7 linked regions of the Homo sapiens genome follow. The protein of the gene in region 4 interacts with the protein of the main gene of each other region in a biochemical or structural test. Each region holds a gene or a part of one and is shown on either strand. Other genes may lie near its edges.

What was found.
Region 1: the proteins of DLG4 (region 4) and MYOZ1 interact in a test that uses a peptide from one of them, tested with the Homo sapiens proteins (one large-scale study listed by IntAct).
Region 2: the proteins of DLG4 (region 4) and JUP interact in a test that uses a peptide from one of them, tested with the Homo sapiens proteins (one large-scale study listed by IntAct).
Region 3: the proteins of DLG4 (region 4) and MYOT interact in a test that uses a peptide from one of them, tested with the Homo sapiens proteins (one large-scale study listed by IntAct).
Region 5: the proteins of DLG4 (region 4) and GOT1L1 interact in a test that uses a peptide from one of them, tested with the Homo sapiens proteins (one large-scale study listed by IntAct).
Region 6: the proteins of DLG4 (region 4) and ABCA2 interact in a test that uses a peptide from one of them, tested with the Homo sapiens proteins (one large-scale study listed by IntAct).
Region 7: the proteins of DLG4 (region 4) and MAP7D2 interact in a test that uses a peptide from one of them, tested with the Homo sapiens proteins (one large-scale study listed by IntAct).

What each region holds. Positions count from the first base shown.
Region 1 is NC_000010.11:73,634,940-73,639,261, forward strand, and holds part of MYOZ1 (myozenin-1), read right to left. Parts: intron 2,984-4,322; coding exon 2,805-2,983; intron 1-2,804. UniProt on the Homo sapiens protein: Myozenins may serve as intracellular binding proteins involved in linking Z-disk proteins such as alpha-actinin, gamma-filamin, TCAP/telethonin, LDB3/ZASP and localizing calcineurin signaling to the sarcomere.
Region 2 is NC_000017.11:41,776,266-41,780,587, reverse strand, and holds part of JUP (junction plakoglobin), read left to right. Parts: intron 1-4,322. UniProt on the Homo sapiens protein: Common junctional plaque protein. The membrane-associated plaques are architectural elements in an important strategic position to influence the arrangement and function of both the cytoskeleton and the cells within the tissue.
Region 3 is NC_000005.10:137,884,038-137,888,351, reverse strand, and holds the end of MYOT (myotilin), read right to left. Parts: intron 2,305-4,314; coding exon 2,139-2,304; intron 1,489-2,138; coding exon 1,355-1,488; intron 1,140-1,354; coding exon 967-1,139; 3' UTR 501-966; downstream 1-500. UniProt on the Homo sapiens protein: Component of a complex of multiple actin cross-linking proteins. Involved in the control of myofibril assembly and stability at the Z lines in muscle cells.
Region 4 is NC_000017.11:7,193,628-7,197,424, forward strand, and holds part of DLG4 (disks large homolog 4), read right to left. Parts: intron 3,426-3,797; coding exon 3,130-3,425; intron 2,949-3,129; coding exon 2,846-2,948; intron 2,708-2,845; coding exon 2,593-2,707; intron 869-2,592; coding exon 692-868; intron 374-691; coding exon 337-373; intron 245-336; coding exon 217-244; intron 88-216; coding exon 40-87; intron 1-39. UniProt on the Homo sapiens protein: Postsynaptic scaffolding protein that plays a critical role in synaptogenesis and synaptic plasticity by providing a platform for the postsynaptic clustering of crucial synaptic proteins.
Region 5 is NC_000008.11:37,936,981-37,942,035, reverse strand, and holds the start of GOT1L1 (putative aspartate aminotransferase, cytoplasmic 2), read left to right. Parts: upstream 1-1,911; 5' UTR 1,912-2,006; coding exon 2,007-2,121; intron 2,122-3,154; coding exon 3,155-3,336; intron 3,337-4,286; coding exon 4,287-4,398; intron 4,399-4,649; coding exon 4,650-4,759; intron 4,760-4,978; coding exon 4,979-5,055.
Region 6 is NC_000009.12:137,006,254-137,009,327, forward strand, and holds the end of ABCA2 (ATP-binding cassette sub-family A member 2), read right to left. Parts: intron 2,801-3,074; coding exon 2,698-2,800; intron 2,616-2,697; coding exon 2,478-2,615; intron 2,370-2,477; coding exon 2,163-2,369; intron 1,712-2,162; coding exon 1,676-1,711; 3' UTR 981-1,675; downstream 1-980. UniProt on the Homo sapiens protein: Probable lipid transporter that modulates cholesterol sequestration in the late endosome/lysosome by regulating the intracellular sphingolipid metabolism, in turn participates in cholesterol homeostasis.
Region 7 is NC_000023.11:20,113,869-20,118,680, reverse strand, and holds the start of MAP7D2 (MAP7 domain-containing protein 2), read left to right. Parts: upstream 1-1,773; 5' UTR 1,774-1,801; coding exon 1,802-1,931; intron 1,932-2,040; exon of another isoform or gene 2,041-2,150; intron 2,151-4,812. UniProt on the Homo sapiens protein: Microtubule-stabilizing protein that plays a role in the control of cell motility and neurite outgrowth via direct binding to the microtubule. Acts as a critical cofactor for kinesin transport.

The sequences.
Region 1 (4,322 bases), on a different chromosome or scaffold from region 4:
TTTAGACAGAGTTTCGCCCTTGTTGCCCAGGCTGGAGTGTGATGGCACGATCTCGGCTCACCGCAACCTCAGCCTTCCAGGTTCAAGCAATTCCCAGCCTCAGCCTCCCGAGTAGCTGGGATTACAGGCATGCACCATCACACCCGGCTAATTTGATATATTTTTAGTAGAGGTGGGGTTTCTGCACGTTGGTCCGGCTGGTCTCAAACTCCGACCTCAGATGATCCACCCACCTCGGCCTCCCAAAGTGCCGGGATTACAGGCGTTAGCCACCGCACCCAGCCCGAATTAAACTCTTCTTAAGAGGTAGGACTCCCTTGGCTCGTTTCCTCCAGTTATACCTAGGGTAAGGGCAGCGTGTTCTCCACACTCCCCTTTCTCATCCTTAACAAGTCAAAAAAGACCAACACGCCTGCCCAGCTTTAAAAAAAAAAAATGAAAAAAAATTCTTTTGCTTTTTGAGACAGAATCTGGCTCTGTCACCCAGGTTGGAGTGCAGTGACACAATCTCGGCTCACTGCAACCTCCACCTCCCTGGCTCAGGCAATCCTCCCACCTCAGCCTCTCAAGTAGCTGGGACTACTGGCATGCTACCACACCCAGCTAAATTTTGTATTTTTTTTTTTCCTAGAGACAGGGTTTGCCATGTGCCCAGGCTGGTCTCAAACTCCTGGGCTCAAGTGATCCATCTGCCTCAGCCTCCCAAAGTGCTGAGATAACAGGCATGAGCTGTGTCCAGCCCCAACTAAAATTTGGGAGGATGGGGTTGCCATGGAGCACCCAGTCTTAATTACAAGGACTAGAGAAATTCTGCCCCCTCCCTTCCTCAGCTTGTCCAACAGTCAGAACTCTCTTCTCTCTCCTTCTTTCTCTTCCTCTCTCCTCTTGGTGCCTGTTGGACCTCACTGGTGACAGTGACACTGTAGCAGGTGGGGGGAAGTGTGGCCAAAAGGGCAACATTAGATGCAAACCCAAAGCCTAAAAATAACCCCACCAACTTCTTCAGGAGGCTCTCCTGGCCATCCCACCATGTACACCCCAATGCTCCACCCAGTGTAACCAGACCCAGGCAGAGAAGAGTGCTTTTGGCCTCCTAAAGTTAGATATGAGCAGCTCAGCACTTTTACTCTGCTCCTATATGAGGACCAATGACAGACACTTCTGCCCCCGGCCCCATGCAGGCATCTATTTCCACTCTCCCCCAGCCACTCAGAGAGGGTGGAGGAGGAAGAAAGGAAATGGAGAAGGCCCTTCTTCCTCAGCTATACCATCCTGTGCCTGGCCCCTCTCCAGTCTCCTCTTTCTTTGGAGAAGGAGCCTGACTAGAATATATCTTGAAGGACCGTTTCAGTCTCCACACCTGGGGCTTCTTAGGGAATAGACTGACCCTTTAAATGGAAGAATGGCTCAAATGGGAGGTGGCTGTAAAAACTCAATTAACTCTTTCTAGGGTTGCCAGATTTAGCAAATCAAATATAGGATACCACTTAAATTTGAATTTCAGATGCACAACAAATTTTTATTTTTTTTTTTTAGATGGGTTCTCTGTCACCCAGGCTGGAGTGCAGTGGTGTGAACATGGCTCATGTTCATGCATCCTCTACCTTCCAGGCTCAAGCCATCCTCCCACCTCACCCTCCAGAGTAGCTGGGATTACAGGTGTGCGCCACCAGACCCAGCTAACTTTTTAATTTTTTGTAGAAACAGAGTCTTGCCATGTTGCCCAGGCTGGTCTCCAACTCCTGGACTCAAGCAGTCCTCTTGCCTTGGCATCCCAAAGTGCTGGGATTACAGGTGTGAGCTACCACACTTGACCCAAATACTTTTTTAGTATAGATATGCCTCCAAATATTGCTTGGGACTTACTTATACTAAAAAAATTATTCATTTGCATCTGAAATTCAAATTTAAGTGGACATCCTGTATTTTTATTTTAATGTCCCAAATATTGCATGGGACATATTTAAAAAAGAATTCATTGTGCATCTGAAACTCAAATTTAATTGTATATTCTGTATTTTAAAATTTCAATTTTATTCTTTGCCTTATCTTCTTCCTTTTTTCTTTTTTCTTTCTTTTTTTTTTTTTTTTGAGACAGAGTTTCACTCTTGTTGCCCAGGCTGGAGTGCAGTGGCACAATCTGGGCTCACTGCAACTCCACCTCCTGGGTTCAAGTGATTCTCCTGCCTCAGCCTCCTGAGTACCTGGGATCACAGGAACCCACGACCACGCCCAGCTAATTTTTTGTATTTTTAGTAGAGATGGGGGTTTCACCATGTTGGCCAGGCTGGTCTCAAACTCCTGACCTCAGGTGACCCACCTGCCTCGGCCTCCCAAAGTGCTGGGATTACAGGTGTGAGCCACCATGCCTGGCTGCCTTATCTTCTTTCTAAAATTTTTTTAAATTTTTATCTTTATGTCCCAAATATTGCATGGAGCATACTTCACTAAAAAATTATTCATTGTGTATCTCAACTTCAAAATACAAGACTGGACTGCCCCACTGGGCATCCTGTGTTTTATCTGGCAATCTATCTTTAACACTTACCTTTACTGGGAAGGAATTTTCTCCCTAAGGGTGTGGTATTCTCCAACCCTTCAGTGGCTCTATGATGAAAACTGGGTTTCAGAGGTGGGCTGTAACTCACCCTGGAGCTGTTGCGGGCTCAATATATCTGGGGGTTTAACAAATTTATAAATTTTCAGGGAGGGGATGTTGACTGCATTTTGGAGGTTCAGGGCCTACTAACAAGCTGTCAGAACAGGCACCAGGCTTTGAGATAGTGATAAAGTTCCAGACTCACCATTGAGCTGTCAGAGAAAACATCAGGGTGGTTCTCATAAATAAACTTCTCCACCCTCATCTGCCGCAGTTTGAACATCTTGGAGCCCCGGTTGGTAAGCAGCGACAGTTCCTCCAACATCACATCCCTTGGGACACTGATCTTTTTGCCCAGGTTCAAGCCTGAGCTCTCCTGTCCACCTTTCAGGGAGGCAAAGAAGAAGAATCAAGGGAAAGAGGAAAGTAGGGTTTTCTGGGCTCAGAATGCAGACCTCATCCACAACTAAGTGTGTATGTGTGTCCTGGCAGAGGTCATTTAGGGGAACAAATGCTGTCTAGTTTGTGAGGGATTTTGATTTCCTGGGACTTGGAGAGAATGCATGGGAACTGGGGTGCACTGTGGAGATAATGGGAATACTAGAGTGGAGAGGCCAATGGGGTAAAAGAGGTACGGGCATGGGGTACAGAGCAAAAGGAGTAAAGGAACATCATAGATGGAGGCCATTGGAGAAACCATGGCATCAGGAAAAACCCAGAGGCCAATCTTGTGTGGAGTCCAAATACAGATGCCATATATATATATATATATATATTTGTTTTTATTTTTTATTCTTTTTTTTCATTTTTTTGAGACAGAGTCCTGCTCTATCATCCAGGCTGGAGTGGAATGGCGCGATCTCAGCTCACTGCAGCCTCCGCCTCCCAGGTTCAAGCAATTCTCCTGCCTCAGCCTCCCAGGTCGCTGGGATTGCAGGCCTGCACCACCATCCCTGGCTGATTTTTATATTTTTTGGTAGGGATGGGGTTTCACCATGTTGGCCAGGCTGGTCGCAAACTCCTGAGCTCAACTGACCTACCAGCCACGGCCTCCCAAAATGCTGGGATGACAGGCGTGAGCCGTGGCGCCCAGCCTACATTTTATTTATTTATTTATTTATTTATTTATTTATTTATTTATTTATTGAGTCAGAGACTTGCTCTGTCTCCCAGGCTGAAGTGCAATGGCGCGATTGCAGCTCACTGCAACCTCCATCTCCTGGGTTCAAGTGATTCTCCTCCCTCAGTCTCCCAAGTAGCCGGGATTACAGGCACCCGGCACCATGCCCAGTTAATTTTTCTATTTTTGTAGAGACAGGGTTTCACCATGTTGGCCGGGCTGGTCTTGAACTTCTGACCTCAGATGATTGGCCCACCTCAGCCTCCCAAAGTGCTGGGATTACAGGCATGAGCCACCACGCCTGGACTTTTTTTTTTTTTTTTTTTTTAATGGAAATGAGGTCTCATTATGTTGTCCAGGCTGGTCTTGAACTCCTGGGCTCAAGTGGTCCTCTCACCTCAGCCTCCCAAAGTGCTGCGATTACAGGTATGAGACACAGCCCCAGCCCTATTTGTATTATTTATTTTGAGACAAAATAAATATATCTTAGGATGAACTCTGTCACCCAGGCTGGAGGGTAGCGTCGCAATCATGGCTCACGGCAGCCTCCACCTCCCGGGTTCAAGCGATCGTCCCACCTCAGCCTCTGGAGTAGCTGGGACT
Region 2 (4,322 bases), about 35 Mb from region 4:
AAGTAGCTGGGACTACAGGCATGCGCCACCATGCCCAGCTAATTTTTGTATTTTTAGTAGAGATGGGGGTGTCACTATGTTGGCCAGGCTGGTCTTGAATTCCTGACCTCAAGTGATCCACCCACCTCAGCCTCCCAAAGTGCTGGGATTACAGGCGTGAGCCACTGCGCCCGGCCTTCTTTCCTTTTTTTGAGGTAGGGACTCGCTCTGTCCCTTAGGCTAGAGTGCAGTGGCGTGATCACAGCTCACTGCATCCTTGAATTCCTGGGTTCAAGCAATCCTCCCGCCCAGCCTCCCAAGTAGCTGGGTCCACAGGTGTGCACCACCATGCCCAGCTAATTTTTAAAGTTTTGTGTAGAGACAGGGTCTTGCTATGTTGCCCAGGCTGGTCTTGGACTCCTGAGCTCAAGCATTTGTCCCATCTCAGCCTCCCAAAGTGCTGGGATTATGGGCATGAGCCACCATGCCCAGCTGAAGCTCAGCTTTCTGTGTCTTTCCCTACCATGGAGACAGTAGCAGGGACCAGAGCAGAGTTGGGACAGGGGCTTGGCAATCAATAAGCTGCTTATTTAGGGGAGACTCCTCCTCTTCCTTGATTGAGAAGGTAATATCTGGCTGGGGCAGTGGCTTACACCTGTAATCCCAACCGCTCTGAAGGTTGAGGCAGGAGGATTGCTTGAGGCCGGGACTTTGAGACCAGCCTGCCAGCCTGTGCAACATAGCAAGACCCCATCTCTTAAAAAAAAAAAAAAAAATTAGCCAAGCATGGTGGCATGTGCACGTGGTCCTAGCTACTCGGGAGGCTGAGGCGGAAGGATTGCTTGAGCCCAGGAGTTCAAGGCTGCAGTGAGCCATGATTGTGCCACTATACTCCAGCTTGGGCAACAGAGCGAGACCTTGTCTCAAAAAAGAGAAAGAAAATAAAAAAAGTAATATCTGATCATTGTAAAAAAAACTGGGGGCCAGCCGCGGTGGCTCACGCCTGTAATCCCAGCACTTTGGGAGGCCGAGGCGGGCGCATCACGAGGTCAGGAGATCGAGACCATCCTGGCTAACATGGTGAAACCCCGTCTCTACTAAAAAATACAAAGAATTAGCTGGGCGTTGTGGCAGGCACCTGTAGTTCCAGCTACTGTGGAGGCTGAGGCAGGAGAATGGCGTGAACCCGGGAGGCGGAGCTTGCAGTGAGCCAAGATTGTGCCACTGCACTCCAGCCTGGGTGACATCTGTCTCAAAAAAAAAAAAAAAAAAAAATTGGGAAGTTTAGAAAAGTTTAAGAGAAAAGAAAAAAAATCGCCCATAATCCTAAAAAGCAACTTTCATTAAGGTCTCTTCCTCTTTTTTTTTTTTTGAGACGGAGTTTTGCTCTTGTTGCCCAGGCTGGAGTACAGTGGCACAATCTCAGCTCACTGCAACCTCTGCCTTCTGGTTTCAAGCGATTCTCCTGCCTCAGCCTCCTGAGTAGCTGGGATTACAGGCACCTGCCACCATGCCTGGCTAGTTTTTTGTATTTTTAGTAGAGACGGGGTTTCACCATGTTGGCCAGGCTGGTTTCAAACTCCAGACCTTGTGATCCACCCGCCTTGGCCTCCCAAAGTCCTGGGATTACAGGCATGAGCCACCACGCCCAGCCAAGTCTCTTCCTCTTTTCTTAGCATCCTTTTTTTCTTTTTTTTTGAGACGGAGTCTCGCTCTGTCACCCAGGCTGGAGTGCAGTGGCAGGATCTCGGCTCACTGCAAGCTCCGCCTCCTGGGTTCATGCCATTCTCCTGCCTCAGCCTCCCGAGTAGCTGGGACTACAGGCACCCGCTAACACGCCCGGCTAATTTTTTATATTTTTAGTAGAGATGAGGTTTCACCGTATTAGCCAGTATGGTCTCGATCTCCTGACCTCGTGATCCGCCCGCCTCGGCCTCCCAAAGTGCTGGGATTACAGGCATGAGCCACCGTGCTCGGCAACATCCTTTTGTTCTTTAGCCTTGATCTTGATGAGCTCATCCCCTGTATATAGTAACATTTTTTTTTTTTGAGATGGGGTCTCACTGTGTTGCCCAGGCTGGAGTGCAGATCTCAGCTCACTGCAACCTCCTCTTCCTGGGCTCAAGCGATCCTCCTACCTCAGCCTCCCAAGTAGCTGGGACTACAGGCACATGCCACCACGCCCGGCTAATTTTTGCATTTTTTTGTAGAGACAGGGTTTCGCCATGTTGCCCAGACTGGTCTGGAGCTCCTGAGCTCAAGGGGATTCACCTGCCTTGGCCTCCTAAAGTGCTGGGATTACAGGGGTGAGCCACTGCACCCTGCCTACAGTAACAGATTTTAGCCAAAACTTTATTCCAATCCTGGTTTTCCAGCATGTGTTGTACAATAAACAGATGGATCTTCCCAGGAGAGGGTTATATGTAGGGATCCTTGCAGAATCACACCCCAGGGAGTGGGCCTCAGTCAGCTGGGATCGGAGCTGCTGTTATTGAGAAGTGGGCCGCCCCTGGACCCCAGGCTGCCCAAGCCCCACTGGTGGTGGTTGGAGGCAGTGGAATGAGAGTACTTGTGTATTTTGCGTCACCAACACACGTCAACCTTTTGTTGTTGTTTCCTGGTGTGGGGTGAAGTGTTTTTCCATTCCCAGGAGTCCCGGTTTGGGGTCATCTGCCAGTTTGGGAATCTGCCCACGGGGGTCACCAGCAGGGAACGGAGCTCCAGCTGGAGCCCTCTCCAGGGGAGCATAGAGGTCCCTGGGTCGAGCCACTTGGCCGTGGCAAATTCCCTCTCCTACAAATCCCCTTCATTTTCCTACCCGGGTTTGTTTGCTTTGGGAAGGAGCCCAGAAGGAGGAAAATAAACAGCAGCTGGGTCGGCAGGCCTGAGCCTCCCCCAGGCCCCAGCTCATCCTCAGGCCACAGCCTGGGCTGCTCTCCAGACTGGAAGTGAGGGTTTTCCTCCGGAAGCCTAAGACCAGCTTGTCTGACAGCTCCTGCTTCAGTTCTGCCCTCTTGGAATGGACCAGCTTGCTGATGGAGACCACAGTGTCTGCCAGAGAACCTGTAGTCTGCAGGAGGTTCCGTCCTGGAGCTGCCAGCCAGAGGGGAGAGGCCTCCTTGGGCAGCCCCAGCCTGAGAGGGAAACAGGCCCTCAAGGGAAGCCATCATGTCCATCTCTCTGGACTTTCTAGAGTCTGTGTCTGTGCTTGGAACTGCTGGCCAGACCTCAGCAGGAGCCAGGGACAGAGTGGGGAAGGTGGGGGCTGGAGATCCTGCTGAGCCCAGCTTCCCCCTGGGACTGCTATGTGGGGAATGTTCACGCCTGGCTGTGCAGCTGCCCCTGGCTGCAGGAAGCAGCATGGACTGGGCATAGGGCAGCCAGTGTCTCCACCTGGCGTGAGCGAAGTTCCACTCCCCTTCTCCTCAGCCATGTTCCCTTGACCTCCCCAGGGCCTGGGAGGCAGCTCCCTACCTAGTCCCCATCTCAGGGGTCAGAGAAAGCAGCCAGGGCTCCCCCAGACAGACTGCCATCCACCTTGCCCGACAGGTCTCTGTGCCAGCCCTCGCCTTTTTAAATTTTTATTATTTTTCTTTTTTTTTGAGACAGAGTCTCGCACTGTATCCCTGGCTGGAATGCAATTGGTGCGATCTCGGCTCACTGCAACCTCCGCCTCCCAGGTTCAAGTGATTCGCCTGCCTCAGCCTCCCGAGTAGCTGGGATTACAGGTGCCCACCACCACGCCTGGCTAATTTTTTGTATTTTTAGTAGAGATGGGGTTTCACTATGTTGGCCAGGCTGGTCTCAAACTCCTGACCTTGTGATCCACCCACCTTGGCCTCCCAATATGCTGGGATTACAGGCGTGAGCCACCGCGCCTGGCCCCCTCACCTTTTTGTTTTGAGACACGGTCTCGCTCTGTTGCCTAGGCTGGAGTGGCATGATCCTGGCTCACTGCAGCCTCAATCACCTGGGCTCAAGTGATGCTTCAGCTTCCAGAGTAGCTGGGACTGCAGGTGCATGCCACCATGCCCGGCTAATTTCTTTTTATTTTTTGTAGAGACAGGGTCTTACTATGTTGCCCAGGCTGGTTTCGAACTCCTGGGCTCAAACGACCCTCCCACCTCCGCCTTCCAAAATGCTGGGATTATAGGCACGAGCCACTGCGCCAGCTGGCTTCCGCCTCCTCTGCCATCTCTTTGTTCTTCTAGCATGAGAATGCATGCCTTTCCTGTGGACAGAGGGCTTCCAGAGTCACAGTGACAAAAGAAGTCACTTGATCATCTCCATTTTACAGATGAGAAAATGAGGCTTAAGGAAATTGAGCCCCTCTCCTCACTCAG
Region 3 (4,314 bases), on a different chromosome or scaffold from region 4:
AATTATTAGAGGAAAAACACCCATATATAGGTAATCAAATTTACATAATTTTTTTTTTTTTAGAGATGGAGTCTCGCTATATTTCCCAGTCTGGCCTCAAACTCCTGATCTTAAGGGATCCCCAGCTCAACCTCTCCCAGCAGCTGGGACTACCGGGCTGTCAAATTTACATTAACTATGAGAATTAAGCAGGTAATCTCTAGAGACTATTCTTATTCCTTTGAGCATAACAGACTGAAAAATCCTGAAGAATTAGAAACCTGTTTGGTTAAAACAAAATCACAAATTCAGTAGATTCAGTCATGATTTAAGTTCTTGTGATTGCCTTTGAAGTGCAAACCATGGCAAGTCTAGCTTAGTTTCTAGAGGAATTGGCTGAGCTGTAAGTGAGCTTCACACTGTTCTAGAATATAACATTGCTCTTTTGGAACTTGTTATTCATAGGTTTTGCTGAGTGGAGTTTTATTTTACAGATCTAGACTTTTGTGAAGAGGAGACAGTCCGTTTTAAATATTTGAATTTTATTTTCTTTTGACATACAACTGTGGAACACTCAGATAATCTATACCATGTTAGTATTCCTACAAGAGAAAACGGGTAAAACAGTATTTAGAAAGCAGTACCAGTAAACGTTATTACAAGCATTAGATGTGTTTAAAAAGTTGATACTAATTTATAACCTGTAATTGTTAAATGTGCATGACTTAAATGTTAAAATCCTGTATTTTAAGATAGTCTTCTGCAGTTACAAATCCATATACCCAGATTTCCTGTAGGCTTCACAAATCGGAGGGGTACATAGAATGTGCAAGAGTCAAAGGATAAATAATATTATAAATATATATTAACTATATTACCTAATTAAAACCATAATCTGTTAATACAGCTATGGATTAATTTCAAAAAAATGTAATCAAATATATTACTAATGGTGTAGTTGGCTGTTTTCCAATGTTGGTAAAGTTATTAAAGTTCTTCACTTTCATAGAGTCCAGATTGAGCTGCCAAACGCTGAAATTCTCCTTCTGGGTTAAAAGCTTGTTTTACATTCAAACCTTTCCCATTAAGTGCTAAATATTTGCTGAATGTTGGTCGAACCCGTAACTGCTTAGGAGCTGGAAGAGTTTGGTTTGGACGTGCTGAAATAGATCACATAAAAGTTGATTCAGAAAACCTGTTCTAACCAAATTGGTCACACTAGGTATTTATTATCAGACAGGAAAAGAAAAAAGAACCAAAACTGATTATATATGGGGAAAATATCTCAAATTTTATACTCTGCTGGGATTTTCATTTCTTATTAAATCTTCCTAGTTAAATCCCTTATAATACTTTGGTTAATAGTATGACATACCCGTAACGTCTAATCTTGTGTTACATGTAGTCACTCCAGCTTCATTAACTGCTGACACAGTATACCACCCAGCATCTTTCTTGTTTACATCTTTTATCAGTAAAGTAACTCTTCCAGTGTTATCTTGATATAAGCTGAAATAAAAATTTTTAAGAAATGAAAGTACAGGAATTATTTCTGTGAAGTGGATGTCTCTGACCAACAGTCAGACTAGGAAGAAAAAAACATTTGAAAATTCCAAAGCTGTATCTATTTATTGCCAAATAGCTATTGGTTTTCTTGAATTAAACATCCCCCCTTGGGTGCTGTCTCCCTCTGCTCTTCAATCTGTCCCCTGATGGTCCCTGTCATTCACTCGGGTGTGTCTGTGTTTGTATTTATGCGTATGTATAGGGGAATGGAGGGGTCCTGACCTGTTCCGTTATCTGTCTCCTACCTCCTCCTTTGTTTAATAAAGGCTGAAGCTTTTTGTAAAGAAAGAAAAGAAAAGAAAACATCCCCCTTTAATCTTGTTTATGTCATTTATTTCCTTGGGCCATCTTTCATCATCGTTGATAAAAAGATAAATCCTAGTCTACTTTATGCCTTACATTTCTGATTAGTGGAATCTGGCTTACTGAAGTTTTCTTACATTTTTATCTAATATATATTTTATTATATTATTCTTTAGTGTTTTAAAAACTAGACAAATTGAGATAAATGCATGCCATTTATAATGCATGTTAAAAAGTATAACTGGATTCACCCAAATAAACTATAGTAAGTCTAGAAATACATATCCTACCTTATTCGGTCAGTGTTGAATTGTACCATTTCATTATTTCTTTTCCAGAAAAGCTTTGGTGGAGGTATAGCCGAGATCTGGCATTCTAGTTTCACTGAATCTCCCTCTAAAACTTTTTTGCTCTGTGGTTTGTAGATAAACATTGGTGCTCTTTTATGTTCTTTTGCTATATATTAATACAAAAATTCAAGTATTTGAAATATTATAAAAAAGGTATTAAATCAAACCAAGGTATTATGAAATTTGTATGTTGATATTAAAATGTTAAAAAGCAACAGCAACAGAAAGAAACTCAGTAAAAAAGACATGCAGTACTATTTTGTTATACCATTCAGAATTCTAAACTCTAATGTAATGATGCATTGAATTGATAATCAGATAATTATATTTCATTCAAACTAAAGTCATATTCTTTTTTTTTTTTTTTTTTTTTTTTTTTTTTGAGACAGAGTCTCGCTCTTTTGCCCAGGCTGGAGCGCAGTGGCGTGATCTTGGTTCACTGCAACCTCCGCCTCCCAGGTTCAAGGAAGTCTCCTGCCACAGCCTCCTGAGTAGCTGGGATTACAGGTGTGCACCACACCCAACTAATTTTTGTATTTTTTTTAGTGGACACAGAGTTTTGCCATGTTAGCCAGGCTGATCTCTAACTCCTGGCCTCAAGTGATCTGCCCACCTCAGCCTCCTAAAGTGTTGGGATTACAGTCATGAGCCACCGTGCCTGGCCCAAATTTAAGTTATATTCTTTATCATCTCATCTACAGGGAGGCAGCATGAGTGATGGAAAGAGTATCAGACAGCTTGGGTTCAAATTACCTATTGGCTCCATGAGCCATGCCAAATTGGTAAAATTTTGTTTAGTTTCTCTGAGTCTCAGTTTTATCTATTGTTATAAAAAAAAAATCCCGGTAGTAGTGACTGTTGTGTCTACCACACAAAATAATTGTAAGGAACAAATGAGATAATAAACAAAGAGATACTTTGTAAACTCTGAAGGAATGTGGGAATATCAGTAATTATTATGACCTTATTTTCAGCTACCTGAGGGGAGACAGGAAACGATAGTTCAGTACCATAACCCTGGTTTTTCTGAAGGAGAAATGAGATTAAACGGATGGCAGCCAAGATCTCTTTCAGCTCTACTATTGTAGTATTTCTGAAGCCATTGGTACAAATAGGATTTGTCTAAACTTTAATCACTTAAATTGTATGTGTTTTTGAAAATTTCCAGCCCACTAGTTTTTCCCCTGAGATTGAGGCCCTTTGGTATATTATTGAATAATCTTAAAGATTTTGTATTGATCTGGGTAGAATATAAACTCAAGAAAATAGTTTATCCTTTAACCTGATCAAACTTCTGTATAATAAATAGTGAATTATAGCAAAATATCTCTTATGCAATATACAATGGCTTAAAGTATTAAAAATATGGTATGGGTTGAGTATCCATTATCTGAAATGCTTGGGACCAGAAGTGTTTTGGATTTCTGATTTTTTTTTTATTTTAGAATATTAGCGTTATACTTGTTGAGCATTCTTAACCTGAAAATCCAGAATGCTCTAATGAACACTTCCTTTGTGTGTCATGTCGATTTTGGAGCATCTTAAAGATTTCAGATTTTTGGATTAGGGATACTCAACTTGTATATTTAAAGCACTTAAAGTGTAAAATTTAAAAACCAGACACCAGTTTTATAAGAACTGCTCTACTTAAGACAGATTTGAGACATAAATGTAGCCATACCTGTTTTCTAAAGCAAGTAGGCCTGTTTTGGTTATAATTAGACATTAGTTTCCTAGTAAAAAGGACATAGTCTAAGGCTAAAAGTTGATATTTACTCTTGATTTTTTAAGAAATTTTTTTAAACAAGGTCTGACTGTGTCACCCAGGCCGGAGTACAGTGGTGCAATCATAGCTCACTGAAACCTCAAACTCCAGGCTCAAGTTATCCTCCTGCCTTAGCCTCTCTAGTAGCTGGGACTATAGGTGTGCACCACTATGCCCAGCTAATTTTTTTATTTTTTGTAGAGACAAAGAAGATCTTGCTATTTGTTACCCTGGCTGGTCTCAAACTCCTTGGCTCAAGTGATCCTTCCACCTTGGCGCCTCTTAAAGTGTTGGGATTACAGGCCTGAGTCACTATACCCAGCCTACTCTTCACTTTTAAACTATGTATTT
Region 4 (3,797 bases):
GCAGCAAGTGCTGGGGCCAAGGCAGGGGCCAGGGCTCACCTTCCATCTGCGTCACTGTCTCGTAGCTCAGAACCGAGTCTTCTCGACCTGGTGGGAGGTGGGGCATCTGCAAGGGGCTCTGAAACAGGGGACCTGGAGCCCTGTCTCCCCCTTGAGGATATCAAAAGCAACTCAGTGCTCCTCTCACCCACATCTTCCCGAACTAACCCTACCTACCCTGCGATCCAGAGCTGGAGCCCCAGTCCTAAGAAGAAAAAGCAGGCCACGGGGTTAGTTATGAGCTCAGCTCCATGAGCCCTCACACTTCCACCCAGGCTCACACCCTCCTCCACCTACCTTGGCCTTTAACCTTGACCACTCTCGTCGCTCAACCCTGTGGGATACATGGAGGGATACGCGGGTAGGGGAATGCCTACCCCCTGCCACCCCCATGCTCTGAGCCAGCTGACAACCCCTTCTCCATACTCTGGGCCAGCTGACACCCCTTCTCCTGCAGCCCTGGACACTGTGCTCCTCAATAAGGAGTTGTCCTTCCCAAAGGCTCATGGGAGCCACGGACCCCAGGAGGGCCCAACAGACAAACCCCTAGGAGTTCAGAGGGCAAACCCATCCCCTGTTGGCTGCCCACCCCGGGGGACCTTGGGAACTTCAGTGCCTGTGGCAGGAAGGCTACAGAGCCCAGGAGCCTCACCGCCGTTTGCTGGGGATGAACCCAATGTCGTCGGTCTCACTGTCAGAGTGGACCCGCCGTGCCTGCCACCACTCCTCATCACTAGCATCGATGACATGCAGCACATCCCCAAAGCGGAAGCTCAGGGCCTGGCTCAGGAAGCCGCAGTCCTTGGTCTTGTCGTAATCAAACAGGGCCCTGGAGGGCAAGTGGCTATCGGTCAGAGCCCAGCTGAGGACTCCAGGAAGGATGCCCCAGTCACCCAAAGACCCGGCCCAGAGGTCTGCAGATGGCACTCCCATGGGAGCTATGGATGCCGAGGAACCCAAAACTGTGTGGGGACCAAACGCTGACTATAACTCATAACAACTATTAGCCATCACTCAGTCCACACTGAGCACAGTTTCCAGAGGCAGGGCTTGAACTTGACCCTCTCAAGAAAGCAGTTTGGGCCAGGCGTGGTGGCTCCCACCTGGAATCCCAGCTGACTTTGGGAGGCCAAGGCGGGCGGATCACAAGGTCAGGAGATTGAGACCATGGTGAAACCCCGTCTCTACTAAAAATACAAAATATTAGCCGGGCACGGTGGCGGGTGCCTGTATTCCCAGCTTCTCGGGAGGCTGAGGCAGGAAAATGGCATGAACCCAGGAGGCGGAGCTTGCAGTGAGCAGAGATCACGCCACTGCACTCCAGCCTGGGCAACGGAGCGAGACACCGTCTCAAAAAAAAAAAAAAAGAAAAAGAAAAAGAAAAACAGAAAGCAGTGTGCAGTACACACGCACATCATAAAGTCACAGGGGTAACCCTGAATCTGCCCAAATTCATAAGAAAAAGAAAATGTCCCGTGTTTCCAAATAATGGTTACCCTTACCAGTATCAAATTTCTATCAGTAAGTCACAACCCCTGGGGTCAGAACCAGGGAAGTAATGAAGACACAGAAGAAAGCAATGGGCCTGGAGAGGAGGGAGGAGACCCCGGGCCCCCTGGAAGTGTGACAACCAGATGACATTCCGCCTGGGAGCCACTACACAACCTCTGTGGTCACTGGGAGTCAGAACAACCTTGGGGACCAACCGGACCCGAGCAGGGAGGAAGGGCAGAGCAAGGGCTCAGGTGGGAGCCAGTGTCTGGGTGGCTGGTGATGCCATCCAACAAGAGGGAAACTGCTGGCACAGCAAGATGGAACCCAGGCCCACAGCAGGATGATGAGCTCAGCGTGGGACATGTTGAGTGTGGGACGCCTGTGGGACATCCCAGTGGAGATGGCCAGAAAGCCAATGGCCAGAAGTGCAGGTCTTGACCTCTGGAAATAGGTCAGCCAGGGCCAGCACCTCCGAGAGACATCTGCAGAGCGCAGCGGCAGACGAGGCCATGCAAGCCACAGGGCCAGACAGGGACAGAAGTGGAGGGGTGACCCCCGGGGGCGGGAGAGAGGTGTGTTTTGGCAGAAACCTAAGCCACAAAAAGAGTCAATGGAGACGAGCCCTAAGAGGGGAGCAAAATGCCGCTGGAGAGACGGGGGCAGGCACCACAGAGCTGCGGCCCACGTCTCCGGGACTGCCCACAGGGACGTGAAGGCTGGGGCAACACTCCAAATACCCTAGAGGACCCTGCTTCACCAAGCATTAACCTTCGAGACGCCAAATTGTGGGGTGGCCTGGGAGTCCCGGGGAAGTGCTGGGATGACCAGGGGCTAGAAGGCAATTGGGATACTTGGGGCAGAGGCTATTTTCCCATCGACAGGGAGTATTTCAAATGTTAACCTGTGCAGCCAAGCCCATGAACCCTGGCTGCGCCTCAGGCCTGGGGTGGGGAGCTAGAGCAGGCAGGGTGGAGAAGAGGAGCGGCTGAGGCCCGGGCCAGGCACAGAGTGCCCAGGAACGCAGAGGGGCTGAGGAGTCCAGCCCGGGAAGCCTCTGACCTGATGTAGAAACCCCTTTTGGGGTTGCTCCGCAGGGACGCAGTCCCTGAGCCCAGGCTGCTGTTCATGAGCTGTTCCCGAAGGTCGTGGATCTTGGCCTCGAATCGGCTGTACTCTGAGGAAGGACAGGGAGGTTTCTGAGCTCTGTCCCCATCCTACTGTCACCCCTGTCCTCCCCTACTGAAGCCATCAGCTGAGGAAGAGTTCTAAGGGCCATTTCAGCTCACAAGACAAGGAACTTCCGGCCTGGTACCTTCTGGTTTATACTGAGCGATGATCGTGACCGTCTGACCCGCATTCTTCAGGGCAATGGCAGCCTGCTCATGGCTGGCATTTCGGAGGTCCACACCGTTGACCTAGAGAGAGGACGACAGGCTGTGTCACCAGAGACAGGAGGCAGCACTTCTGGGTCCAGGTGGAGCAGGGAGTGGTCCCGCAAGAGGACTCGGCTGCAGCCCATCCAGGCCCCTCCCCAAGAGCTCTGCGCTCTGCCCTGTGGGGAGGGGGTGGTGCAGGTAGGGGCAGGCCTTCCCTCACCGACAGGATCTGGTCCCCCTTCCGCAGCTCCCCACTGAGGTCTGCAGGGCCCCCGGCCAGGATAAAGGAGATGAAGATGCCTTCACCGTCCTCGCCACCCACGATGTTGAAGCCCAGGCCCGTGGAGCCCCGGTGGATCACAATTCGCCTCGGTTCTCGGGGAATGTCTTCCTCCCCGAGCAGGTCCTTGGCCACTGGAGAGTAGCGCCGAGGGGAAGTGGGGGTCATGGCTGTGGGGTAGTCGGTGCCCAGGTAGCTGCTGTGACTGATCTCATTGTCCAGGTGCTGGGAATAAGCTGAGGAAGACAGGGCAGAGATGAAAGTGCCTGGAGGGAAACAGCACCCGCCACCCAACCTTCTCCCCAGGGTGCCAGAAGAGCCAAAGTTAGGTGGAAGGGAAGATATTCTGCCAGAGATGCCAGGGTGGGGTGGTAAGGGGATATCAGATCACAGTGACATCAGGGGTCAGGAATTTATAGGTGACATCAGAGGCTGGTTGTCCTAGGGGATAAAGGATTTGAACGTTATATGTCCTCAGTATGCCAGGGATGGGGAAGTCAAAGGGAGCATTAATATTACGCTTTGGGGGTTTTCTCTGGGTTCCTGTGTCACTCGAATCTCTTAATCCATAAAATTCTTCTCCCTCTTTTTTCCCCCCACCTCTCTGC
Region 5 (5,055 bases), on a different chromosome or scaffold from region 4:
TGCCCGACCTTTTTTTTTTTTTAAAGACAGGATCTCACTCTGTCAACCAGGCTGGAGTGCAGTGCCATGATCATAGCTCACTGCAATACCACCACGCCCAGCTAATTTTAAAATTTTTTGTGGAGTGGGTGGGGGGGGTCTCCCTATGTTGCTCAGGCTGGTCTTGAGCTCCTGGGCTCAAGTGATCCTCCCGCCTCAGTCTCCCAAAGCACTAGGATTGCAGGTGTGAGCCACCATGCCTGGCTGTGGCTGACCCTTTGTATGCCTAAATCAGGCAGTCATTGGCTACCCCTGTCAGTGGGGGTGAAACCTCCAGGTGGTTTCTAGGCTAGCTGACTCCTGCCAGCCAAGCACAATTCTCCAGAGAACACAGGCATATAAGCCTTGTCCACCAGCGAAGCAGCAGCTGGGGCCGGGCACATTGGTGGTGAAGGCCTTCTGGGTGAGACATCAACAGTGTTTGCAACAATCATTTAAAGAGTTATTTAACATCAGGCTGGGTGTGGTGGCTCATGCCTGTAATCCTAACACTTTGGGAGGCTGAGGTAGGCAGATCACTTGAGGTCAGGAGTTTGAGACCAGTCTGGCCAACGTGGTGAAACCCTGTCTCTACTAAAAATACAAAAAAAAGCCGGGCGCAGTGACTCACGCCTGTAATCCCAGCACTTTGGGAGGCCCAGGTGGGCAGATCACCTGAGGTCTGGAGTTTGAGACCAGCCTGATCAACATGGAGAAATCCCCCTCTCTACTAAAAATACAAAATTAGTTGGGTGTGGTGGCGCATGCCTGTAATCCCAGCTACTCGGGAGGCTGAGGCAGGAGAATCTCTTGAACCTGGGAAGCAGAGGTTGCAGTGAGCCGAGATCACACCACTGCACTCCAATGTGGGCAGCAAGAGCGAGACTCTGTCTCAAAAAAAAAAAAAAAAAAAAAGAGAGAGTCATTAAACATCAAAAGGAAAAGAAAGCAAGCAATATGCAGACTGACTCTATAGAGGCTGGCTCTTTTCTCCCCTTGGCCTCTGCTGTCTATACTTACTAGTTGGCTGTCATTGAAACTTAACAAATGGCCAGGTGTGGTGGCTCATGCCTGTAATCCCAGCAGTTTGGGAGGCCAAGGCAGGCAGATCACCTGAGGCAAGGAGTTCGAGACTATCGACAAAGTGAGACTCCATCTCAAAAAAAAAAAAAACCAAAAAAAGAAAGAAAAAGAAACTTAACAAACATATGTAGAAGTCTTGGCTCTAGATAACTGAGAGAAATAGGACTGGCTTAGTGAGTTGCCAATTATATTCTAATAATAGGATTCTTTATTAAAACAACTGTGGAAGAAAACAGTGTTTGCTTTTTATTCCTTTTGAAATCTGGGGCACTTTGCAAAATGGAAATCAATGCCTCGACTTGCATTGGTGTGTGATCTGGGGTTTTTGCTTCTGCAGGAGAAGCCCTATCTGGCTTATTGGCTGCCTGCCTTGCCCTATGTCTTTCTTTCTTTTTTTTTTTTTTAATTTGTATAAATGTGTGAAGTACAAGTGTAATTTTGTTAGATGCATACATCGCATAGTGGTGAAGTCAGGGCTTTTAGGGTATCCATAACCCCAACAATGTACATTGTATCTGTTAAGTAATCTCCCATTATCCTTGCCCTGTCATCTAAGGAGTGGGCTTGTTACTTTGGACTGAGCCACCTGGGGCTAGAGAAGAGAAGGCATTGAGTGAGGGAAACGGGCTTGGGAATTCCGGAGATTGTTATCCTGCCCTGCCCGCTGTCTGAGGGGATTCTCCTCAAGTACCCTGGAATGTTCCTGTGGCCCCTGTGGATCGCCACCACAAAGATCATGAGGTTCTGTTGCCCTGGCAACCCGTTGTCCAGCGCCTCTGCACTGGGGCTGCCAAGGTTCCAGGAAGAGGCAGGACTGCCCGGCCCAGCCTTGGAGGAAGACTTCTGGGCAGAAGCGGAACACAGGAGCAGAGACACATAGTCTTGGCTCCAGTTTCGTTTCAGTTATGCCCACCCTTTCAGTGTTCATGGATGTGCCCCTCGCCCACAAGCTAGAGGGCAGCTTGTTAAAGACCTACAAACAAGATGATTACCCGAACAAGATATTCTTAGCCTATAGAGGTAGATGCCTAGCAGTTCTGAAGTATAAGACTTAAGTGATGGTAACTGCCTCTAGGAGGACAGTGTTCCCTGCTGCAGGGGGAGGGGTGCAGCCCAAGCTTCTGTGGGTGGAGAGATCTTTTCTTGTTAACAGAATTACCCAGTGGGGAAAAGTGCAGATAAGGTCCCAGGTCATTCCATGCTCTCTGCCCTTCTCTGGGGGCTTCTAGGGATTTGGTGAGAGCTATGTCCTCTTCCACAACTCTATGCTTGGGGGCCTGCATGGCCATCCCACACTTCTTCAGATTCTTACCTCCTCTCTCTCTCTTTCTCTTTCTCTTCCTGTTCTTGAACCAAGAATGGTTCTCCAGATTGAGCTTTCTGCTATGCAACTGGGGCTCACCACTGTGAAAGTCAGGGTTACCTTTATTTAGCTTCATCTACCTATAACTCTCATTTTGCATATATATATATATATATATATATATATATATATATATATATTTTTTTTTTTTTTTTCTTGAGACAGGGCCTCACTCTGTTGCCCAGGCTGAAGTGCAGTGGCAAGATCTCAGCTCACTGCCACCTTTGCCTCCTGGGCTCAAACCATCCTCTTGCCTCAGCCTCCTGAGTAGCTGGGACTACAGGCGCTGGTCACCATGTCTGGCTGTTTTGTATTTTTTTGTAGAGACAGGGTTTCATCATGTTGCCCAGGCTGATCTTGAACTCCTGAACTCAAGTGATCCACCCACCTTAGCCTCCCGAAGTGCTGGGATTACAGGCCTGAGCCACCAATCCTGGGCTTGTATAATTTTTAACCTTTAAAATGGCATAGGTTTCAGTTGTCTTTTTTAAAAAGACAAAAATAATACACATTCACTAACAGCATATTCTTTTCATCAAGGAGAAAAGAAAAGGGAAAGTTGTATTTTCACAGGCACCTTCCCACAGCCCCATGGAGTCCAGGAGAGATTTGTTTGCAGGCTGTCTGCAGAGCTCAGCCCTGGGGGCCCAAACCAGGCATCTGGAGCTCCCTCTGTGGTTTTCCTCACAGTCTGCATGACAAATGAAGGCCATCCCTGGGTTTCTCTCGTGGTGCAGAAGACTCGACTACAGATTTCACAGGATCCCTCCCTGAATTATGAGTACTTGCCCACCATGGGCCTGAAATCATTCATCCAGGCCTCTCTAGCACTCCTCTTTGGAAAGCACAGCCAAGCCATTGTGGAGAACAGGGTGAGAAGGTGGGCCCTCCCCTGGCTCATTTAGACACAGAGAGTGGCGATCTGGGTCTGCACAACCTTAAACCCGAAGGGGACCTCGGAGGGCCCCCTGGTATTGATAAAAGAGATACCTGAGGCTCAGAGAGTCCACAAGTCCTTAGCCATCGAGTCAGGATCGGAATCTCAGTCCAGTGGTATTCCCACCTGCTCACACTGCTGATTTGAAAGCTCTTTCAAGACAGGAATGATCTGAATTGGAGGTGGTGTTAGTATTCCCATTACTGTTTTATTTTTTAACCTATTATATATATTTTTTGAGACAGAGTCTCACTCTGTCACCCAGGCTAGAGTGCAGTGGTGCCATCTCAGCTCACTGCAACCTCCACCTCCCAGGTTCAAGCAATTCTGGTGCTGCATCCTCCTGAGTAGCTGGAATCACAGGCATGTGCCATCACGCCCAGCTAATTTTTGTATTTTTTGTAGAGACAGGGTTTCACCATGTTGGCCAGGCTGGTCTCAAACTCCTGGCCTCAGGGGATTCCCTGCCTCGTCCTCCCAAAGTGCTGGGATTACAGGCATGAGCTACTGCGTCTCGCCTCCATTACTGTTTTAGAGTGTTATTTCTGTCTATTTCTTTTTATTTTTTAATGTTTATTTACTTATTATTTTTTTGAGACGGAGTCTCACTCTGTCACCCAGACTGGAGTGCAGTGGCCTGATCTCCGCTCACTGCAACTTCCGCCTTCCGGGTTCAAGTGATTCTCCTGCCTCAGCCTCTTGAGTAGCGGGGATTACACATGCCCAACACCACATCCGGCTAATTTTTGTATTTTTAGTAGATACGGGGTTTCAACATGTTGGCCATGACCTCGAGTGATCCACCCACCCCAGCCTCCCAAAGTGCTGGAATTACAGGTGTGAGCCACCACACCTGGCCTATTTGTGTCTATGTCTTGCTGGCAGGTAGGGGGTGTACACACTGTTGGTGACAGTGGTGCCTTCCAGCTTGGCGTCCAGTTTCTCAGAGCTTGGCATAAGGATGCTCGTATAGTTTACATCATCTCTTCTCAAAAAGGTTAGTCTTACCCAAGATGAGGGGAACAGCAATCCCCGTCCCTTGTTCCTAATCCTCACCCCATTTGCCATCTTCACTGTTATCCCTCATTCTCTGTCATGAGCAAAATGGCAGACAAGCCAAGCTATTTATGTCCTTTTCCTGTTAATGTCCCACCTTCAGCCAGTGACTCTCAGCCCCACACTCCAGTACCTCTGTCTCCGTCTCTCTGTTTCCCATGTACCAGCTAGTGGGGGGCTGTGTTCCCACAGAACTGCATGGACTCGTCTTCCAGGACATGGGCTTTACAGTTTATGAATACTCTGTCTGGGACCCCAAGAAGCTATGCATGGACCCCGACATACTCCTCAATGTGGTGGAGGTAGAGGGGCCCCGCTCAGAAACTCCTCCCTAGAGCTGACTTACAGCCTAATGTTCCTCTCCTCCCCACACCTCTTAAGTCATCCAAGACCTTTTCCAGGTTTGAATTTGCCTGGCCCTTCAATGGTAACTAACATGGAGGAGCACTTCACCCCCAAATGCCCTGGGGCCGCCACTCCTGGGTGGGGGTGAAGCCTGATGAGACCGTCTGTACCTGCAGCAGATCCCACATGGCTGTGTCCTTGTGATGGGGAACATTATCGACTGCAAGTTGACACCAAGTGGGTGGGCAAAGTT
Region 6 (3,074 bases), on a different chromosome or scaffold from region 4:
CGTGTTCCTTTCTCGACCTCTTTCTGCCATGATTCAGCCCCTACAGTTGCAGGACGGAGGCTGCTGCGGCCTCCTGCCTTCTGGCGGCTCCCCCACGCATTTCCCTTGGCCGACCACCAAACCCACACCAGCCCCTCCAGTGAGCCACTGTTCCTCTCGGTTCTTCCAGAGTGAACCGCCCCCAGGGCCCAGGACAGCTTCACCCCAGTGACCCAGCCTCTCAGGGACTCCAGCATGGTCATCCCACTGCCTCTCAGGTGGTCACAGTGAGTGCCTCATAGGAACCCAAGTGGATGTGTTGGCCCAGCCCACCCAGTGCCCTCAAGCCCATGGGCCCCTCCCCTGTTGTCCCCCATGTGGCACCAGCCCTCAGTGAGTCCACCCTCTACCCTCCTGAGGAGCCTTGAAACGGCCTAAGGCAAGAGTCTGAACTTGGCCCAGATCACGGGGCGTGAGCTCTGGGGGCCATTCATGCCCCTCCCCCATCTCCTGCCCACAGTGTGCCAGGCTCCACCGCTGATGAGCCTCAAAGCTTCCAGGTCCTGCCTCCCTGGGGCCTTGGCCTGTGCCCTGCCCTCTGGCTGGGATGCCCTTCCCTTAAGGAATCTTCACAGACTTCGGTCTCCTCCTGGAGGTCGCCTCTTCCTGGAAGCCCTCGCTGTCCCTTCCATGACACGGAGACAGCCTAGCCCAGGCTGCTGCAGGCCCCACGTGGGCAGCAAGGGGTGAAGGAGGCTTAGAGAGGGCAGGTGGACGGGAAGATGAAGGCTAAGGGGAAGGGGGCCGGGAGCAACCCCTGAGGGTGGGATGAGGGGGACAGTGAACCATGGTGAACCACCCTGCCTCAGTTTCCCTCCTCCAGACCGACCCAGCCACCCCCTGCCAGCACCTGTGCCTGAGGGGCAGGGCCTTCTGGAGCGCTAACCCACCTGATGCGCCCATCCTCCCCACCCTTCCCAACCCACACACGCAGACCCGCAGACATTTTGTTTATTTATTTAAAACAAACATCTGTGCGCTATGTACAGGCCCGGCTCCCAGGGAGGTGGGCGGGCAGGGGGCCAAGCTGGGTGGGAGAGCGATGGCAGCTGGGGGTTGGGGGGGGTCTGGCCCCTTGCCTGGCCAGCAGGGTCAGCTTCTCCATTCCTGCCACCTGCCAGCTGGCCCAAGCTGATGGCTTCCCGCAGGACAGCCACCTCCCTGCAGGAGAGCAGGGCCAGAGGAGCCTCTTCTCAAAGCAAAATAAATACGGGACTGACCCAGCTCCGCCCACAGCCCGCTCTCGGCATCAGCCTTCATCGTAAGAGAGAAAAGCTGGTTCCGAGGCCGGGCAGGAGAAAGGCCAGCAGTGCCTGGTCCAGCCGGCGTCGCCTTGGGCGGTGAGCAGTGCCAGGCAGGGGCGAGGGGCCGGGCAGACCCCGAGGCTTTAAGGCAAAGCAGGGCAAGGGTGTACGCAGCCCGGGCCGGGTCAGCCTTTGGCACAATTAGGGGCGGCAACCGCAGTGACCACAGGGCATGGCCGAGTACAGGGGCTGGAGGACCAGAAGCCCCTTGGTCCTGAACCTCCACTCCAGGCCCTGGCAGGCACTGGGGGACTTCTGTCCCCATTGTTGAGTCCCTGGCCCAGCTCTGGGTGGTCAGTGGAGCGTGTCCTCCCTGGCCCAGCTCTGGGTGGTCAGCAGAGCGTGTCCGTGTTGAAGGACAGCTGGGCCTGTGCACAGGGGAGGTCAGGCTTATGGGGCATCCTGTGCCACCCCCTGCTGGGGCTGAGGACACTTGTGCTGGCCCGCCCCGGCCCTCCTGCAGGCTGGGCCTGGACGCAGGGTCTCCCCACGAGCTCCCTCTGTGTCTGGGCTCTCCCGGGCCTCCGTCTGCCGAGTCTGGGGGCCACTGAGTCTACATCGGTCCCCTGTTCCCCGGCTCTGGTCCCCTCTGCCCCACCCTTGCTCTGTGCCCCTCAAAGACTCTAGCAAGTCTGGACCATGCAGTTACGTCTCTCCAGGCCTATCTGCAAGTGTCCCTCGCCCACTCTGCCCCCTTGACCTCTGGACAGCAAGCATCCTGGGGCCAGTTCTCCCCCGACCCCACCCGCGGCTGGAGCCACCAGGCAGCCTGGGTCCAGTGGGCAGAGCCCTGGACAGCCATGAGAGCAGCCTGCTCACCCGCTCCTCCTCGAAGCTGATGAGGCCCTCGTCCTCCGTGTCCAGGTCCTCGGGCTCGTCTGCCACAAGTGCCCGGAGCTCCGTGGGGGCAGACCGGGGCCGGAGCAGGCTGAGCAAGCAGCCGAGAGGGGACTGCAGTGCGGATGGCGGCTCCGTCTCCTGCTGCTCCAGGTTGTCACTCTGCTTCTTGGCAAAGTTCACGAACACCTGGTGGGTGGCGCAGGCGTGTGGGGAGGGGGCTGGTCTGGGGTGAGGAGGGGCAGGGCGGGTGAGGGGAGGGGCAGGTGTGGTGCGCAGTGCCCTTGGGGCGCTCACATTGTCCAGTGTGGTCTGGCTGACCGAGTAGTCCTCGATGCCCAGCACGCCAGACACCTGCTCCATCTTGCTGAACACCTGGGCCAGCGAGATGTGCTCCGACTTGAGCTGGTACTGCACCTTTGTGTGGTGCCGCTCCTGCAGGGGGGGAGGTCAGAGGCCTGGCAGCGCCCCCCCACCCCGTAGCGCCCCCTCCACAACCCTGCCCGGGACGGCGCACCTTGAGCATGGCTTCCGGGAAGTTGCGGTTGAAGAACCGCACCACGTCCTTCACACTCTGGCTGCTCTTGGTCCGCACCGTGATCATGTAGCCATCTCCAAACCTGGTGGGACAGGCCGGTGGCCCGGAGCCCTGCGCCGCCCAGCCAGAGCCCCAGCCCCCCAGCCTCCCAGCCCTACAGCCCCCACAGGCACCCCAGGAAGCCCCATAGCCTCCCACAGCCCCCCAACCCCACAGCCCCCACAGCCCTCCAGGCTCCTCCCCTGGCCCCACTGCCCCAGTCCCCCCAGCCCCAGTGCCCCCAGCCCCCCTGGCCCCACAGCCCTCACAGCCCTGCAGCCACCCCCACTCCTGGCCCCGCTGCCTGGCCGCCCCCC
Region 7 (4,812 bases), on a different chromosome or scaffold from region 4:
ATGTTTAAACTTCCTGGCTTTCTCACCACACTTGAACCCTACTCCCGGCACACCTTTGGGCGTGTCAGGAACACGTTCATCACAAACATTTTTTGTGCCACAAAGGGACTTTCCCAGCTTTGGCCAAGAGTACAGGTGCCCATTCCTGAGAGTTTCAGCTTCACATTAAAAAAAAAAAAATGAGACATAATTAAGGGACCATAAAATTCACCCGCTTAAAATGTACAATTCAATAGTTTTTAGTATACTTAGTTGTGCACTCATCATAATCCTAGAATATTTTCATCCAAAAAAGAAAACCTGTACCCATTATTCAGCTTCATTTTTAATCGTGTATATCTCCCCCCAGGAGTGGTAATAAAACTTTCAGGCTGGTCACCTTCCAACGAGAAAAAACATGCAGCCTGGGGCTCCATGGGAACGGGTTATCACTTGGCAGGCCTGGGTAAACAAAAGGCTTGAGCCGGCCCTGCCAAGATGTCTTTTTCAATGTTTTTGAAAAGATAATAAATGTGCATGGCAGTGGTAAAAGTGCCTACTTAGGAGGCAACCCGTTTAGCAGTTTCTTGTGTGTCTTCTCGGAGAGATCCTCCTCAGAGGTTTTTTGTTTTATTTTGCTTTTGAGACAAGGTCTCTGTCGCCCAGGCTGGAGTGCAGTGGCGTGATCACTGCAGTCTCGACCTCCCGGGCTCAAGCGATCTTCCCGCCTCAGCCTCCCAAGTAGCTGGGACCACAGATGAGTCGCCATGCCCAGCTAATTTTTAAAATTTTTTTGTAGAGACGGGGGTCTCGAACTCCTTAGCTCAATCAATCCGCCCGCGTCAGCCTCCCGAAGTGTTGGGATTACAGGCGGGAGCCACCACACCCGGCATCGCGGAGGTTTCAGTCAGCATTATTTACGCCTCAGGAGAAGAGGAACCAAATTGGCTGCGGAGTAGGGTGTCGTTGAAAGGCCTAGGTCGGCCTACGGCGCGTGCCGCTGCCTCTTAGTTGAAGATCGACCCCAATAGCTTGCTGCTGTCCCTCTCTGGGTGACCGCACGCTGAGGGTGGGGCGTCACTAAACACTGATTACCCGTGCGCCTCGAAAACTGGAACCTAACTATGCATGGAGGGCGGGTCCTCTGGCGTCTGCACAGATGTCACTGGCCCAACTGGCACCCACCTGGGGGCCTAGCCAGAAATTGTTCCCAAGGCTGCATTGCTGAGTTTGCATGCAGACACCCAGTGAGTGTAAGCGTGTGCGTGCTGAGTGAGCACGTGTGTGCGCGTTATGTGCTCTGTGTTCACACATTGAGTGAGGATGTGTGTGCACGGTGTCTGAGAAACTGCACCCTACATCTACACACGCTTTGAGTGTGTATCTGCTACTGTGAGAAGATGCATTTACGCTGGGTGTGCACGTTGTGTGTGCATGTTGCATGTAAGCATCGTATGAAGAACTGTGTGCGTACGCACGCCTTCTGTGTGTGCACTGTGTACAGCAGCGTGTAAGGACGCGTGCACGCCCGTACGCGCTGTGTGAGGACTGTTGTGCACATTGCATGCACACGCTACAAGCGCGCGCCGCGTGAGAACCGGTGCGCCTATCGCACGTGCACGCCCTGCGTGCGCTGTGCGTGGAAGCGGTGCGCCTATCGCACGTGCACGCCTTGCGTGCGCTGTGCGTGGTAACCGGTGCGCTTATCGCACGTGCACGCCCTGCGCGCGTGCTGCGTGAGGACGCGTGCGCATGCGGACGCGCGCGGGTTCGGTGCGGCGCGGCGGGCTTGGCAGTGCGCCTGTGCGGCCGGCGCATCCCGATGGAGCGCGGCGGCGGCGGCTCCGGGACGGGATCCCGGCCTGAGGGGACTGCGCGGGGAACCTCTCTCCCAGGGAAGATCGCAGAACCGGGCGCGGTGCGGACCTCTCAGCCCAACTACCGGCCTCAAGGTATTATCCCCAGAGTGTGGCGGGCGCCCGAGGGCTTCGGGTTCCTGTGGGGGGGCGGGCCCGGCGGCCCAGGGCAAAGGTCCTCGAGCGTGGGGGGAAGGGGCACGGCGCAGAGCTGAGATAAACGCCCTTTCCCTGGCCCAGGATCGTCCGGACGTGCATCCAAGGGCCGCACCCCTCTCTGTGCGAGTGGCGGGGTTCTTTCTTGGGGCGACCTGGGTGAGTGGGTACACATGGGGGGTGGCTTAGGGTGGGCGGCAGGTGTGTTTGGGATGGAGGTGCCTGAGGGGGTGCTGCGGGTCCAGTCCCCGTCCTCGAGGAGCAGCCGGCATGGGGGTCGTTAGGATAAACCGAGCGGGGTTCTGGGGTTGCCCCGGCCTCCGCGCGCGCTCTCTCTGCGTTCTGGGAAACGCGCGCGAGCGCCGCTGCAGCCCGCGGCGAAGGTGGCCCAGCTTCGCGCCTCTTGGCGTTTCCAGGGGGCAAAATCGGCGTGTCACCCATTGGCAGAGGCAGATTCGCCCGGGCGGCCAGGCGTCTGCCCCGGACCGGGTGCTCCTCCCGCCCGGATGCGCTCCCTGTCTTGGGAACGCTGCTCAGGTGGCCGGGCCGCGGCCCTCAATCGAGGCAGCGGGGCAAACAAGGCTCTCAGCCCTCGAGGCTGCCGATGCTGGGAGCCATGGAGGGCTGGTCCCTGGCTGCCCAGAAGCCAGCGAGGCAGCGGAGGAGACTGTGAGGACATTTGGCAGGATTTTAGATAAGCAGGTCTGATGCTAACGTTCTGTAAAGTGGTTGCAGGTAGTGCGGGGGTGTAAGCAGCATGGAAACCGATTTCATGCTGTTTTTCCTGACAACAACTTTTTTATTTTTAGTTAATAAGGCAGGCTATTTTTAAAACATTTTTTATTGCAGTCTAATATGCATTTAAAAAACCACACAAAACTATAATTCGATGAATTATCACATAGTGAAGATGGGAGTATTTTATATACGATGGGCCAAGAAAAGGAAAGAAATCAAGAGAAATCTTCTTAAAACACGCTTTTTCACTGGGGTTGAGGGGGCGAGGTAGTATTTTCTGACTGGGCCTTCAGTTGCATCATTCTTAGGAGGAGGAGATAGCTTAAATCATTTCCAGTTTGTATTTTTCATTATGCTATTTTAAAGGCAGAATTCATTAACTGTCACAGGATAACGTTATAACTACCTTTGAAATGTGTGCTTTTGTTTTTATCCTTTTTGCTTGAAACACTCAAGCTGCATCTGCTAGGGAAGAACCTGGAAACTACCCACCAGAACGACCCTCCGTGGCAGAGGCGACCTTGTATAATAAAACACTGAAAAGGAGAGGTTGTTTCAGTTTGCATTTTTATTTGGTTGAGAGCTTAAATAATAGTTTGTTTCGATGTTCTGTTGTACTCATGAGAGGTGGGGAGGGGCGGTATGATTGGGTTTTCAGTGTATCTTGGATTTTATTTGAAGGAACTTAAGGGGTTTTTTTTTTTTTTTTTTTAATGGAAACAAAATTGGGGAAGGGGAGGAGGTACTTTTGCGGGGGAGATTCTTAATAAGTTCTGTTTGGAAACTATTGTAGAATCATTTAATGCACTCTTCTGATATTAAGATTAGCTTAAGGATATCTTCCTTCATTTGAAATTGGAAATATAGAAAAATATGTGTGAAGGTTTAAAATGTGAAATAAGCACCTATGTGCATTAAGGTTGGTATGGTAAAATTGGAATGTTTAATTTAGGTGCCAGGTGATACCACCATTTGTTGTTTGGGGGAGTTAGCAAGGCCAGGTACTTAAGTAAAGTCTCCTTAGAAAAATTATGATTTTGAGGTTTTATAATTATCTGTCCTGGATACTGATCATTCTTGGTTACCCAGGCCCTTAGCATTTGGGACCCATTCCTAATGAGACTTAACCTGCTTTTCTAGAGAGTCAACCATTGTTCCTAAGCTTGGGCTGGGTGCTGTCAAGGCTGCAAAATACAGAAAGACCTGAGATGTTTAGGCTGTCCAACAATTTTGTGTTGCACACTTAGGGGATATGAGTTGGCAAGTGGTTTTCCTGGGAGCTGTGTAAAAGACGGAAAGGAAATACCGCTGGTGGTTTCCTCTAGCAACAGGTTCTTCCGATATTGAAATCCTGTGCATGTTCCCATTACCCCCTAGTGATGCCTTCTTTCTTTCCTTTTAATTACCTCTGAATAGAAATTACCAGATCTACTGTCCATTTTAGTGCTTGTCTGATACACATAGTATAACAAATGAGCAAGTGCTTGTTTCAATCTGCTTAACAACCTTTAACCAGCAGATAGAATCACCAGATCTCAACCATATTTCCTTTCTTTCTTTTTAGATGAAGTCTCACTCTGTTGTCCATGCTGGAGTGCAGTGGCACAATCTTAGCTCACTGCAACTTCTGCGCCACCATGCCCAGGATCCCAGCACTTTGGGAGGCCGAGGCAGGTGGATCACTTGAGGTCAGGAGTTTGAGACCAGTCTGGCTAACATGGTGAAACCCTATCTCTACTAAAAATACGAACATTAGCCGGGCCTGGTGGCGCATGCTTGTAATCGTAGCTACTTGGGAGGCTGAGGCATAGGATCGCTTGAACCCAGGAAGCGGAGGTTGCAGTGAGCTGACCTCGCGCCACTGTACTCCAGCCTGGGTGACAGAGCGAGACTCCGTCTCGAAAGAAAAACAAAATAGGGTGGGGCCTGGAGATAGAGAGTAGGTGGTTATTGGAGACTGCGAAGGGTACTGGGGGGTGGGAAGGAGGTAGGAATGGTTAATGGGTATAAAAAAATAGAATGAATTAATAAGGCCTGGTATTTGATAGCACAACAGGGTAATTATAGTCAATAATAATTTAAT